Regions from separate parts of the Homo sapiens genome. Here all the other regions are linked to region 1. The links come from fine-mapping of genetic effects on gene expression. A gene starts in region 1. Each other region holds a variant in brackets. All regions are shown on one strand. Distances are between the middles of the regions.

The links. PIP is the estimated chance that this variant, and not a neighbour inherited with it, causes the effect.
Region 2: its variant is the best candidate, but not a certain one, in a credible set for the expression of PIK3R1 in macrophages (Nedelec 2016, PIP 0.87).
Region 3: its variant is the best candidate, but not a certain one, in a credible set for the expression of PIK3R1 in whole blood (INTERVAL, PIP 0.60).

What each region holds. Positions count from the first base shown.
Region 1 is chr5:68,214,533-68,217,291 of GRCh38, forward strand. PIK3R1 (phosphoinositide-3-kinase regulatory subunit 1) reads left to right here and starts at 1,224. Exons shown (of 16, transcript NM_181523.3): 1 at 1,224-1,417. RefSeq lists silencers at 401-620, 841-1,940.
Region 2 is chr5:67,991,195-67,993,953 of GRCh38, forward strand. No RefSeq gene overlaps it. Among named protein-coding and RNA genes, the nearest start is that of LINC02219, 200 kb to the right of the region's middle. The variant T/C (reference allele first, on the strand shown) is at 1,365.
Region 3 is chr5:67,223,572-67,226,330 of GRCh38, forward strand. No RefSeq gene overlaps it. Among named protein-coding and RNA genes, the nearest start is that of CD180, 28 kb to the left of the region's middle. The variant T/C (reference allele first, on the strand shown) is at 1,298.

The DNA of each region.
Region 1 (2,759 bases):
TCCAACGTCCACAAGAATAAACCACCAAATTCAACGTTTTACAGAGGCCAAGTGCTTAGGTTTTGTGTGTTTGTTTTTAAGAGTTTTCTTGCAAGGAAACTGGGAGGGAACTATAAAAGGGCTTTAGGCAAACAGGGTGGGCGGGTGCAGGGCTTTAAGCTGCAGAAAGGAGAATCTGGAAAGAGCTTTTAGGAAGCAGATTCTCACATGTTTTAATATGAAAGAGTGGCACACGTGGTGCTGGCATTCCATCTTACCATCAGTGGAAGGTTTGAACCAACATCAAATTTTTCTGGAGCAACTTAGGTAATTATTACTTGAAGAATATGCATTTCAAAACTAACACCTTTAAGAGACAATGTAATTCACCTGCGCTTCCCCGCCCCCCCCGCCCGCGCCAACCCCACCCCCCGCCAACCCCGCCCCCGACTCCGCGAACGCCGAGGGGCCCGTGGTCTGCCTGAGTGACCTCCATTTGCTCTGTCATCTCAGGACTAGAAGCCATCAGCCAGCGTACGCCCTCAGAAAACTCTCTTCCCTTCTCGCGGGTCCGCCTGGCTCCCGGAGGCGGCGGTGCCAGGCTGCCGGAGTTAGCCAGCGGCAGGCTGCGGGCGCCCGTCCCTCCGGTTCACCCTTTCACCCCTCCTTCACCCCCGGAGCGCCAGGCGGGTGCCGCGGGTTTTCCGCCCACTCGGAAGGCAGTGCTGGCGAGACCAGGAATTGCAGGGCCTCTCCGCTTTGGCGAGCTCTGGAATCCGAGTCCTCCCCACCCCAGCCACTCTGCTGGGGCGCTAGGGGCTCGAAAAAGCCTGGGGTTGGCTGAAAGACACTCGGATTAGAGACGCAGCCAGCCTCCAGGGAGGTCTGAACTTGTCTTCGACCTCCCCGAACCCCTCCGCCTCTGCGCTGGGAGACGCCCAGCAGCCGGGCGGGCCCGGGACGTGTAGAGCCAGAGCACTCCGCAGCGGAGGCAGCGCGCGGCACGGCCGCCCGGGGCATCCCCGCGGCTGGGGGGCGGAAGGCGAGGGCGGTGGCAGGAAGGGTCCGCCAGGCCTGAGCTCGCTCCCCCACTGCCAGCCGCCGGCTCGGAGGCCCGAGCCGTGCGGACGGAAAGGGGCGGAGCCGCGGGCTCTGGTTGGTGTGGGCTCGGGGGCGGGGCGCGCGGGGCCGGGCCGGAGGCGGGGCTAGCGCCGGGCGCTGGAGCTGCGGGCGCACGGAGAGGAGTCGCCAGCAGCTGGAGCGGAGTTGGAGGAAGCAGCGGCAGCGGCGAGGGCGGCAGGCTAGCTGTCGGAGACGGCAAGCACGGATCGGGCACGGCCGGCGGGTCGCAGCCGGGCTGGAGGCCGGTCGGAACCGAGCGGGCAGGAGGCCACCGCTGCAGCGCGGGCCCCGCAGAGGAAGGAAGCCGGCGGGCGGGGTAGGTAGGCAGCAGCAGCCCCGGGTGTGTGTGCTCGGGCGGGGGAGGCGGTGCATGTGTGCACGGCTGCCGCGACTCTCTTCCTGTCACTGGCAGCGGCTTCTCCTTCTGCAGAGCCCCGCCGGGGGGAAGCGGGCTGGCCACCGGCCCTCCCCGCCTCCGGCATCTCCTGGCCGCCGGGCAGCACTACCCCCGCGCGCGGCCGGCGTCCTGTGAGATCCCCGCCATCCTGACTCCCGTTTCCCCCGTCCTCCTGCGAGCTGGTCCTGCACGCCGCCGGTCGCATTTGCCCCCGGAGTTGCCGACGAGCTCGGGCTTCCTCCCACCCTCCGTCACCGCACACTTCGGAGGGTCCCCGCTGTCGCCTTGCTGCAGTTTTCCGGGGCCCCTCACCGGAGGAGAGCGCCCTGGCCGCTGCCTTCGTGTTGCGGGAAGGAGCGCTCCCTTCCCCCGTGGCCCTCCAGCTGCAGCCAGGGTCGCTGCCCGGGCCCTTCCCGGGGCGGGCGAGGCGGCGGTGGTCCCCGGAGCTCGTCCCCTAACCCCCGCCTTCCGAAGTTTGCCGCCCTCCTCTTCCGGGGTGGGGGAAGTGCGCCTCGGGGCGGTTGGTCGCTGGGGCCCTAACTCAGCGTTTATTGCCAGCCAAGCTTGGGCAGGTTGTTGGAGGCATATTTAGTGGGGTCTTGGAACCGCCCGGAAATCCAGCTTTTGGAACGTGGGGCGAGGCGGGAGGGACCTGCCCAGCAATATGGAGCCGGCTGGGGAGAGCCAGGGAGCCTGCAACCCGGAGCTAAAATATCGTGGGCAATTCTCTGGAAACCACAGCTCTAACCTAAGCTCAGAAACTGCCCCTCAGATCACAAGACAAAGAGAACAGAAAACCTCTGGCCAGGCACTCCTGTACAGAAATACACTTTGATAACCAGAATTGGAGCCTGAAATGCAAGGATATATGCAGAATGGCTGTTACGTGTTGAATGCAGAATGTGTGTCAACTGGGTTTGGGGGAATTCTTCTGTTTCCCGGGGCGCTATTAATATCGGAAAGGTCTCACTTCCACCGTTAATCCCTTGAGCTGCAGCGCTGTTGGTGTCCGAGTGTGAGTCTGCTCTTTATTTGGGGGCTTCATGATTTTAGGTTTTTTTTCTTTTTTCTCTTCTTTTCCTCTTTGTCAGCCAGTGCGAAGTACCAATGGATAAAGCAGTTCCGGGTTTTGAATGCAACATAAGATTGTCATTTTGGTGTGATGAGGCTCAAGTTTTAGTAATCAGGAGGGATATTCACAGAGCTTATTGGTCAAGGCTTGATGTGGAGTTATATTTTAATGCTTCATTAGTTCTGTTAC
Region 2 (2,759 bases), 220 kb before region 1:
CGTGATCCGCCCGCCTTGGCCTCCCAAAGTGCTGGGATTACAGGCGTGAGCCACCTCGCCCAGCCGCCACTGGAGGATTTTAAGCAGAGAAGACATGGACTACGATCTGTGCTTTAGAGAATTCTCTACAGTACAAGAAAGAGAAGGGCCTAGAGCAAGGCAGCCGCCACTGTGTGCTACACCAGCCCTCCCCTCAGCCACGCCCTGCATAAGGCTAGCCCTCTACATCACAGCAGCAGAGAGCTGGGCAGTTCCTTCTAGAAAGACACAGTTCCTATGCTCCAAAACCTCTATTACCTAAAATGGCCACCCCTGGCATTATCCCAGAAAATAGTTATTTGTAGGGTAGAGTCATTTCAAACCCCAAAGCTACTGAAGAAGTCGTAAAAAAGCAGAAGTACAGATACAGTGGCTGCATCCTTTTAAAAGTAGGGTCAGGACCCAGGTCCCTACTGATTACTTAAGTAGAAAAGAGCTTCCAAACTTTTCCCAAAACAGGACACTCTTATTTGGAGAACGGAGCTACACAAATACTAATTAAAAGAACCCACTTTGATTTCCTATCACAGGGGTAGGCAAGCGTTTTCTGTAAAGAGCCAGAGAATAAATATTTTAGGCTTTGAAGACCATACCACTTCTGTTGCAACCATTCAATTCTGTTTTCATAGACAAAATGTAAATGAATGAGCATGGCTGTGTTCCAATAAAACTTCAGTCACCAAATAGGCAGTGGGCCAGATTTCACCTAGAGGCATTGCTGCCCCCACCCTTCTATCCTATAAGAAATCACTTTCTCTGTAATTTTCCCATAGGACATGTTTGTTTTGCTAATTCCTACTCATCCCCAACAAGTTAAAATGCAGTATCTCAGTAAGTTGTTCTTGTTATTTCATTCCTTGCTTCCTTTTTGCAAAGCTGATGAACATTACATTTCTTTTAAAAAAAAAAGGTTAAGTTTTACTTGATTTAAAGCATCTGTGAGCAGTGGCAAATAATAGAAAGTCTTAGTATTAGAAATTGAGAAAGGTTTTAGAGACCCAACCCCCTTTCCTGGCATGATAATCTGAAGCTAAAGAGGCGAAGTAACTTGCCCAAGGTCAAGCAGTCAGTTCAGTGTATAATCTCAAATGAATGATATGAATTGATAGAAATACTGTGCATCAGATGGACTGCTTAGATTGCCCCATCGCAGGTTGGTGGACACCATGTTTGGAGTTTTTTCCTCCTATGCAACCACACTCATATATCCATGCTCTCTTTTCCTTCAGTTCCTTTACTTAATTTCGAAAAGCAAAACACAGTCTTTCCACAATGCGTCAAAGAAGTCCACCCTGATAGCGGCCCAAAGCAGTCAGCAAAACATC[T/C]AATCTTGGGGCCATGGTCAAAGAGGTACCACTTGCCAAGCAGAAATACATGAGTATTAGCAGGAGTCTGAGACCATTCCTGAAGTTCCTGTTCTGGCAGTAGGTTGACTTGCCTGTCATGTGCAGAAGTAACAGATTTGTGTTACTCTGTTCAGGGGCATCCATTTATCTCTTCTAGAACGATTAGAATTAATTTGACTATGATTTTAAAATCCAATATTTCAAACAAGATTTCCAATGCCATTTGCACTAGTTGAGCTATTTTGTTTGTAGTGGAAATACTTATAAATTGTCCAGAAAGCTGTGAGCCCTGTTAACATCTGTTGGAATGGGGTGAATACAAAAGGTTAGAGAGGAAGTGCCAGGAGCAGAAGTCTCCGATGACAACATTTCCTTTCTTCTACCTCCACCTTCTCTCCAGGTGGGTATGAGTAGGAATGCCATATGCTAGTGTTGAATTTAGATGTTCGAGGTGGAACATTTGGACTTGCACTGAATATTTCCCTTGAATGCAAGCTATAAAAATAAATTACACACTGTCCACGACTGACTCATTTGGCAATGGTTCCCACAGAGAGGTCAGATTAACTGTATTCATTCCCTTAATATACTTCCACTCAACACTATGTCAAGTTGGTATCTTTGCATTTTAAATATTCTGAAATCTTGTTCATGTACATACTGTTCCATCACACAGAAAGATCATTAATTCTTTGTCAGTTGATAGTGTCTTTTATTTCTGTTTTACTTTATATTTTTCTTTCCCTCCCTTTACCAGAAACAATTCAGCCACCAGCCAACCTAGATTAGTATCGACTCGCACTCAGATTTCTGGGGCAATTTAAGAGAGTAAGCTCTCTTCTGAGCTGGAGATGGATGGTCCTAAAGACTTCCAAATTCAATTAGATCCCTGGGTTTCTACTCCCTAATTTTGCTTGCTATATGCCAGGCTCTGTGTGAATTACCACATTTAATCTTCCAACGACCCTATGAGATAAGCACATAATTATAATAGCTCCACTTTACAGAGAGAGATATTAATGTTTAGAAAGGTTAAAAAAATTGCCTAAGCTCACAAAACTAATTATAAGTGAGGAACCAGGGATTCCAACCCAACTTGTCAGCCAACAGGGTTCACAGTCTTGAATACCATGCAAACTCTTCCAATTTGCTAAATAATTCCAGAATCATTTTTTGTAACATGTAAAGCAAATAATATTACTCTTCTACTCTGAAAACTTCAACAGCTTTTTATATCTACAGGAGATTATTCAAAATATATTTTCCCTAGAGTAGCATTTTGGAGCCCCCTCTGCCCTCCCGTCTTTCTTACCGTACCTTTTTCCACCTGTTCTTCTCCTGGCTTACACTTTATGTGCCAAGCTGCTCACATGT
Region 3 (2,759 bases), 990 kb before region 1:
GATCAGAATCCCACACTTTCCAAATCAGCATGTTGATCTAATCCACAGAAATGGTGTGGTAGCCCAATTTTTCTTCTGTCTACTTCCACCTCAGAAACTGAATTGGAATGTGTCTCCTGCTGCTTGCACTTACTGAAGGTCATAAGGAAATAGTTGATGAATTCTGGTTACCTGATATTTATTTACCAGGTCCCCTAAAACCTCATTTCTGGTGCGCAAGTCATCTGAATCCCATAGCACAATATGCTGTCATTTGATCAACCACTTCATTACCGCATATTGTGAATAGCTGGCTTCTCATCCTGCACTAAGAAAGTCCTTAGTGCAGTCCACTTTGAAAATGGGAAATAAGGCTAGGAGCATTGGCTCATGCCTGTAATCCCAGCACTTTGGGAGGCTGAGGTGGGTGATCACCTGAGGTCAGGAGTTCAAGACCAGCCTGGCCAACATGGTGAAGCCGCGTCTCTACTAAAAATAAAAAATTAGCCAGGTGTGGTGGCATGCACCTGTAGTCCCAGCTACTGGGGAGGCTGAGGCAGGAGAATCACCTGAATCCAGGAGGCAGAGGTTGCAGTGAGCCAAGATTGTGCCACTGCACTCCAGCCTGGGCAACAGAGTGACTCTGTATCAAAAAAAAAAAAAAAAAAAAAAAAAAAAAAAAAAAGGGAAAAAAAAAAGAAAATGGGGACTAGAAATCAAACAGAGTTCTCTTTTACTCTGTGGGTCTGAGGTTAGATACCCTGAGAATTTTTGGTACCTAGTGATGTCAAAGTTTAAGTTTTGAAGGTATGGTCTATGAGTGGCAAGTAAACAACAGGATAGGTGTAGTTGTGTGTATATATGTGTGTGTGTGTGTGAGAGAGAGAGAGAGAGAGATTTGGAAAGATAGGGCTATGAAAAGATTTTCTTTTAGCCATTTTGTTGAGTTTCCCTGTAGAAGGCATGGTTTAGAAATCATTGCACTATATTCTGATTGATAGCTTTATTAATCATATATGTGGCTATTGTGGAGGTACATGGCCCTGCATTGTTTTTATACAGCTTCCAGGTAGGGTCTAAGCCAGGAGGAGAGTGACACACTTTCCTCCCAGAGTCTCTCTAACAAGTGTATGGTGCATGATAGAAGTGCCTCACTGTAGCTGGGAAAGCAAGATTATTATTATTATTATTATTATTATACTTTAAGTTTTAGGGTACATGTGCACAACGTGCAGGTTTGTTACATATGTATACATATACCATGTTGGTGTGCTGCACCCATTCACTCGTCATTTAACATTAGGTATATCTCCTAATG[T/C]TATCCCTCCCCCATCTCCACACAGGCCCCGGTGTGTGATATTCCCCTTCCTGTGTCCATGTGTTCTCATTGTTCACTTCCCATCTATGAGTGAGAACATGCAGTGTTTGGTTTTTTGTTCTTGCAATAGTTTGCTGAGGATGATGGTTTCCAGCTTCATCCATGTCCCTACAAAAGACAGGAACTCATCATTTTTATGGCTGCATAGTATTCCATGGTGTATATGTGCCACATTTTCTTAATCCAGTCTATCATTGTTGGACATTTGGGTTGGTTCCAAGTCTTTGCTATTGTGAATAGTGCCGCAATAAACACACGTGTGCATGTGTCTTTATAGCAGCATGATTTATAATCCTTTGGGTATATACCCAGTAATGGGATGACTGGGTCAAATGGTATTTCTAGTTGTAGATCCCTGAGGAATTGCCACACTGACTTCCACAATGGTTGAACTAGTTTACAGTCCCACCAACAGTGTAAAAGTGTTCCTGTTTCTCCACATCCTCTCCAGGACCTGTTGTTTCCTGACTTTTTAATGATTGCCATTCTAACTGGTGTGAGATGGTATCTCATTGTGGTTTTGATTTGCATTTCTCTGATGGCCAGTGATGATGAGCATTTTTTCATGTGTCTTTTGGCTGCATAAATGTCTTCTTTTGAGAAGTGTCTGTTCATATCCTTCGCCCACTTGTTGATGGGGTTGTTTGTTTTTTTCTTGTAAATTTGTTTGAGTTCATTGTAGATTCTGGATATTAGGCCTTTGTCAGATGAGTAGATTGCAAAAATTTTCTCCCATTCTGTAGGTTGCCTGTTCACTCTGATGGTAGTTTCTTTTGCTGCGCAGAAGTGCTTTAGTTGAATTAGATCCCATTTATCAATTTTGGCTTTTGTTGCCATTGCTTTTGGTGTTTTAGACATGAAGTCCTTGCCCATGCCTGTGTCCTGAATGGTATTGCTTAGGTTTTCTTCTAGGGTTTTTATGGTTTTAGGTCTAACATATAAGTCTTTAATCCATCTTGAATTAATTTTTGTATAAGGTGTAAGGAAGGGATCCAGTTTCAGCTTTCTACATATGGCTAGCCAGTTTTCCCAGCACCATTTATTAAATAGGGAATCCTTTCCCCATTGCTTGTTTTTGTCAGGTTTGTCAAAGATCAGATAGTTGTAGATATGTGGCATTATTTCTGAGGGCTCTGTTCTGTTCCGTTGGTCTACATCTCTGTTTTGGTACCAGTACCATGCTGTTTTGGTTACTGTAGACTTGTAGTATAGTTTGAAGTCAGGTAGCGTGATGCCTCCAGCTTTGTTCTTTTGGCTTAGGATTGACTTGGCAATGCGGGCTCTTTTTTGGTTCCATATGAACTTTAAAGTAGTTTTTTCCAATTCTGTGAAGAAAGTCATTGGTAGCTTGATGGGGATGGCATTGAATCTATAAATTACCTTGGGCAGTATGGCCATTTTC